2 separate regions of the Homo sapiens genome follow, and region 2 is linked to region 1. The links come from fine-mapping of genetic effects on gene expression. A gene starts in region 1. The other region holds a variant in brackets. All regions are shown on one strand. Distances are from middle to middle.

Region 1 (2,905 bases):
ACAATTCTGTTTCATCCAAAAACACTGCACGGGCCCAGAGTGATTCGAAACAGATTTTCTGCAAAGGCAAAATAAAATTGGAACAAAACCTAGTTGAGGCATATGCCAGTCTCCCTGCCCCCAGCTCTCTCCACCTCTGACATATTAACCCTCTTCTCTCATGCCCCCAGGAGCCTCCTACGACAAGGCAGCAAATCTAGGAAATTGCACTGGGCACTCTTCGTTCAAGCCTGGAGCCCCTGCCCCATCCCAGGGCAGCCAGCCTCCACCCTGGGCTGACACATCCTTTAGAGAGTAAAAGGCTGCTTGCCAGTGTCAGCCTGTCACTCCTTCTGTCCCACCTCTGCCTCCTTCCTGCAGGTAATGCTCCATCCATACCTCCTTCTCCTTCACCCCTGCTGCTTGGGATAATTGCAGAACCATGGAGCACAGAATACAGAATACTGGGGGTGTACAGGAGAGTTTAGCCAAAGCAAGTCAGAAAAACCTAGGTCTTTTTTCGTTTCTGCCACTGACCGGCTGTGTGACCTCAGCAAGTCACTTCACTTCGCCCAGCTGCTGTTTCCTCAGGGTACAATGAGGACACCAATAATACTTACCCTGCAGGGGGCTTACCGGGATTTCCCGAGCCGACGCTTCAAAAATGCCTACACAGTGCCTGGCGTATAGCAGATACACAAGGAATAGCTGTCATCATGAGAATCTCTTAAAGATCACCTAGTTCAACCACTGTTTTAGAAACGGACAAATGGAGGCCTGCAGAGGGCAAATAACTTGCCTAAGGCCACACAGCACGATACCGCCATCCCATCTCAGCCTCAACCCAGGTTCCCTCCTCCGGCCTTGGGAGCTCCAGGTGGCCTGTGAGGAACGGCTGCCTCCTCCTGTCACCCCCAGCTCCAGAAGTCTGTCCACACAAGGCGGCGTCACGGCACACATGGGGAGCAGTCACTTCACACTCACCATCGAGCAGGTCTGGACACTCGAGTGCAGTCCCGCCGCCCTCCTTGCAGCTGCCTCACTTTCCCTATTGCCGCCAGCAAGCGTCTGCTCCCATCTGGCCCGGGACTCCCGGACTCGAGCTAGGGCTCTGCAAATTCCATCCACACTGGCCACCAGCCGCTGGTCCCGCTCTCTGGGAAGATCGCCTTGAGGACCTGCTGCGCCCCGAGTCTTCCTTCTGGTGCAGGGAGGCCGGTGCCCTGCCGGGCTCTGATAATGCAGCCGGGACTCTTATCTGGCCTGTGTCAGGGTGCAGGCGGCCATGGAGCTGGGGTTCCAGGAAGCCCTCCTGGGGCCCCCCAGCCGGCCCCGCTCCCCCCGGATGCCGCCTGCTGCTCTGGACGCGGCCGATTGCTTGTCAGTGTCACTCCCAGCTCTGCCGGGGGGAATTCCATGCTGGCCCCCAGCAGGCGGGGCCCCCACCCCTTCACGTCCCACCCCCCACTCCCATTTTGGCAAGGGGACTGGGAAAAGGCAGCTAATTTCAAGTCCGCACAGCGTTTGTGGTCGTGTCCTGAATCCTCCACGATTAATCACAGAGCATCTGATTTCTGCTTTGCCTCAGAGAGGGGCGGAGGGGACGCCTGGAAGTTTCTGTTTACTCCATTCTGCACCAGGCTGCGTGCTAATCACAAACAGACTGGGACGCAGCCTACCCCTCCTAAACTGCTCTTGGCCACCCCCTCCCTCCTCCAGCCCTCTCCTTCCTCTTCTTACCTTGTCACTTTCCTCCAGCCCCTTCCTCACTCTTTCTCCTTTCCCTCCTTTCTTTCCCCTTTCCCATCTGTCCGCCTCTTCAGTCCAGATCTGATCCATTGCACACCCCTTCCTTCCGTCCTGGGTTTCCCCCAAGCCCCTTTCCCCCTTTGCGCCTCCCACTTCTCCTAGATTGAGAGTCAGCTTGGTTCTTTCCTTTACATCCATTAGTGAGGGTCAGGCTCTTTTGTTATGTTTTTTTTTCTTTTGTATAACTTAATTATTTCAGGGTTCGGGGTGGGCGCTCGCCCCTTGCCCAGTCACACTGGTGTGTGTGCGACTCCTACAAAGTTAACAGTTTCTCCAGGTCAAGGGGTGGGATCCAGGCTTGGTGATGTGCACAATTTCTTTTGTCCACTTGACACATCTCTGCGTCCTGATTCTGCTCAGGGACGGACCCAAGAACAAAGCAGCCATTTACCGCCTCCGGAGGGGAGGCCAGCCCTGTGGCACATCCAGGGCCTTGGAACACCTAGAGACAGATTTCTCTCCCTCGCCTTGGCTCCTTTCCACTCTGCAGCTAGTGTGGAAAAGAAACCAGAAATAAACAGCACCAAAGAACAGGAACGGACACCCCTCCCCATTAAAGCACACACACAGACTCTGAAGGGTAATTTGGCAAAGACCTCTGAAAACCAGAGATGAGGGTCTCCTACTACTTATGCCTGTGCACAGGAGACAGGCACAGAGATGCTTGCTGAGAGCTGCTTATCATAGGAAATGATGGGAAATAACTGAAATGCTCATCCAATAATGACTGCTTGAACAAGATGTGAAAGATATGGTACATCAGGCAGCGGTTTTTTGTTTTTTGTTTCCTGACAATGGGCCTTGTCTGTCATCCAGGCTGAAGTACAGTGGTGTGATCTCAGCTCACTGCAACCTCCATCTGCTGGGCTCAAGCAATCCTCCTGCCTCAGCCTCCCAAGCAGCTGGGACCAGAGACGTGACCCACCATGCCTGGCTAATTTTTTTAAAACATTTTTTGTAGAGTCAGGGTCTTGCCATGTTTCCCAGGTTGGGATGAGGCAGCAAGGTACTTTTTTTTCTTATTTTTTTATTTTTAAAAATAAAGATGGTGTCTCACTATGTTGACCAGGCTGGACTCAAACTCTTGGCCTCATGTGATCCTCTCATCTTGTTCTCC
Region 2 (2,905 bases), 97 kb before region 1:
AAAAAAAAAAAGGGTTTCTGATGGCACGAGGGCAGGTGTCCCTCACTGCATTCCCTGTGCTGTAGGGGAGGAGTGTGCCCAGCTAGAGTCAGGACTGTGACTCCAACTCACCCTGAGTCAGACCGTGTTGGGTTCATCCCCATGCCCTGGGCCCCACACCACACCTGGATCAAAATCCCGGAGGCAGGGCCTGGGAATATGCATGTCAACAAGCAGTCCAGGTGGTGCTTGGAACATGACTGTCACCTTTCACTTGCTCCACAGAGAAAGGCAAATTCTGGGGAAGAACGCAGTCCAGCCAGCATTTCTAGATACCCTCGTGGGCCCCTGCCTGCCTCCCTTCCCATAAGGTTCATTCTTTACCCGTCAGGCTCTGGTGGGAGGCATGGAATCTGTCCCCAGAAAAATGCTCTGGCGGCCGGGCGCAGTGGCTCATGCCTGTAATCCCAGCACTTTGGGAGGCCGAGGCGGGCGAATCACAAGGTCAGGAGTTCGAGACCAGCCTGGCCAATATGGCGAAACCCCGTCTCTACTAAAAATACAAAAAAAGAAAATTAGCCAAGCGTGGTGGTGCACACCTGTAATCCCAGCTACTCGGGAGGCTGAGGCAGAAGAATCGCTTGAACCCGGGAGGTAGAGGTTGCAGTGAGCCATGATTGTGCCACAGCACTATAGCCTGGGCGACAGAGTGAGACTCCATCTCAAAAAAAAAAAAAAAAAAAAATGCACCGGCCCACCAAGTTTGCACGCAGCTTCAGGGCTCCACAGACTGCTCAGAAGGCCCCACGTGGAGGCCCCTTCTCGCCCGGTGAAAGGGCGGTGACTCGCACTGAAGCTGAGAAAGCTCCTCCGTCCGATGGCATGAAGACACAGAGGTGAAGACAGGGCTGAAATGAGGCCAGCTGTGGCCACCCTGAAGGCCCTGGAGACTCAATACAGCCTTTCTGTGGGAGGGGACGACAGGACAGAAGGGAACCCACCTATTTCCAGCTGTCCTGGGTACTTCCCTCTGACTCTGTGCTGGAAGGTTTTCTTGAGCTGGTTCAGCAGCGTCGTGGCAGGGCAGGACAGGACCCTGCCAGGCCCTGTGCACCCTCTCCACAGCTTCAGGCACCCCTTCGTCCGCGAGGCCTGTGGGATGACTGAAAGCCCCAGTTCAGAAACCTGAATGGTGACTCGGGGAGAGCACATGACAAGGACCCGAAAGGTTTCCCTCCACTAGGACCTGAGGGGGTAGGGAGGAGGGGACGGTGTGGCTTGATGCGAGGTCCCTTCCCTGCATTCCCATGTGACACGTGAGCAACTTTGGCTCTAAGCATCTTACCAGGGCCACCACCTGCAGTCCCCACAACAACCTGGGAGGGGCTGCTGTCACCAGCCTCTCCTTACAGACAAGGAACCTGGCCTTCTGAGGGGAGGTCCCACGGGGCAGAGGCACAGCTGGGATCACAGCTACTGTTTGACGGCACATTCTGCACCTTGAATGTGGCCTGGGGTTACCTCACTGAACCCCGTGCAGTGCCCTCCTCCTAT[G/A]CAGATAGGGAAGCAGAGGCTCAGAGATGTGAATCATTTGCCTAGAGTCACACAGCTGACTGAAGAGTGTGCTGCAACTCCAGGACTTGTCTCCCTTACCTCCCCACAAAGAGTGTGTATCTCTGAGCCCAGCCCAGCCACAGCCTCCACTCTGGGCCCCGATTAACTCTGGCTATTAGGAAGGCAGAAGAGGCTCCCCGAGCTTTGATCCCGTCCCCGTGCCGCTCACATAGGCAGCCCCTGGGTGGCAGGCAGCTACTTACTCTCTTCAATGGATGTTGCCTTGCCGACCTTCTCAAAGTCAAGGACAGAAAGTGTCTCCAGAACGTGCTTTTGCTGTGCCACTTCTTCCAGGAGGCATTCCTGGACCAGCCTTGATAAATTAGGGGAGGCCAGTTTCTGGGAAGCAGCCCAGATGCTCCAGATTAGCATGGAACATGCCCACCGAGGTCAGCTGTTACGGCTGTGGCTCCCACCTGCTTGTGCCCATCTCTTCTGTCCCGGGGGCAGCTCCCTGACTGTCATTTGGGGATTCCCCTTTCACCAAGGTGGCTGAGCTAATGGGATGCAGGCTGGGCTGCCAGGGACCACCTTTGCCCCCAGAAGGAGGACCAACCTGCCTGAAAGTGAAGCCAACCCACATTGCAAAGCAGAACTGAGAGAGACCTAGTCCTGATAGCATTTGAACCCGTGCATCCAGCCGAGCCTGAAGCCTACCTCTGAGGCTTTCAGTACCATGAGCCGATAAATTTTCCTGTTGGCTGAGCCAGTTTGCATTAGGGTTCTGGCACCTATAAATGAGAGTCACCACCAAAGCCTTTGGTTTAGGGCTTGGCCTGTGTAAGAGCCACACGAGTATTCACCCAGACCCTGGTCTGCCTCTCTTCCACTGGGGAATAGCTTCAGTCTCACGGGCTTCCAGGATGCAGGTCTGTCACCCCTTCATGCTTCCCACCACCTTCAAGATGAGCCTTTGCAAAGAGGACTCCAAACCCCTGTCTGCCCCTCCCTGACAAGTCCCCTAGCCCAGCCACCTGCAGCAGAGCTTTGCAGACTTGGAGGTGTACCATCAGCAGCACGTCCAGCTCTGGGGCACCGGCTGTGAGTTCCCTGGATGACGCTTTCAGTGATGACGGTGGGGGCAGGGGCCGGTCCTTTCTGAGTTGAATTGAGAACTGGGTGACCATTCCAGTTAGCAGTTCAGCTCCCTCTGAGGGTGGGGGAACCCTCCCTTCCCAGCGAGCCCCAGGTCAGGAGGCCCACTCCAGGTCCCAGGAAGTTCAACTGAAGAGGAAGGGGAAAGGAACAAAGGGTGGCAGCAACTCGAAACAGAGCTGGGAGGTGTGGCCAAGGGCCTGGGGAAGGCAGGGCG

Direction of the effects. Alleles are on the strand shown, and positions count from the first base shown. SD is a standard deviation of normalised expression in the study named.
For the expression in esophagus muscle of the gene that starts at base 1,380 in region 1, G is the low allele of the variant in region 2 and A is the other (small effect, 0.22 SD a copy in GTEx).

The links. PIP is the estimated chance that this variant, and not a neighbour inherited with it, causes the effect.
Region 2: its variant is the best candidate, but not a certain one, in a credible set for the expression of RIPOR3 in esophagus muscle (GTEx, PIP 0.81).

What each region holds. Positions count from the first base shown.
Region 1 is chr20:50,690,163-50,693,067 of GRCh38, forward strand. RIPOR3 (RIPOR family member 3) reads right to left here and starts at 1,380. Exons shown (of 22, transcript NM_001290268.2): 1 at 964-1,380. The coding sequence starts at 966. RefSeq lists an enhancer at 1-2,463.
Region 2 is chr20:50,593,573-50,596,477 of GRCh38, forward strand. RIPOR3 (RIPOR family member 3) reads right to left here. Exons shown (of 22, transcript NM_001290268.2): 15 at 2,568-2,691; 16 at 1,797-1,932; 17 at 981-1,142. Among named protein-coding and RNA genes, the nearest start is that of MIR645, 9.2 kb to the left of the region's middle. The variant G/A (reference allele first, on the strand shown) is at 1,534.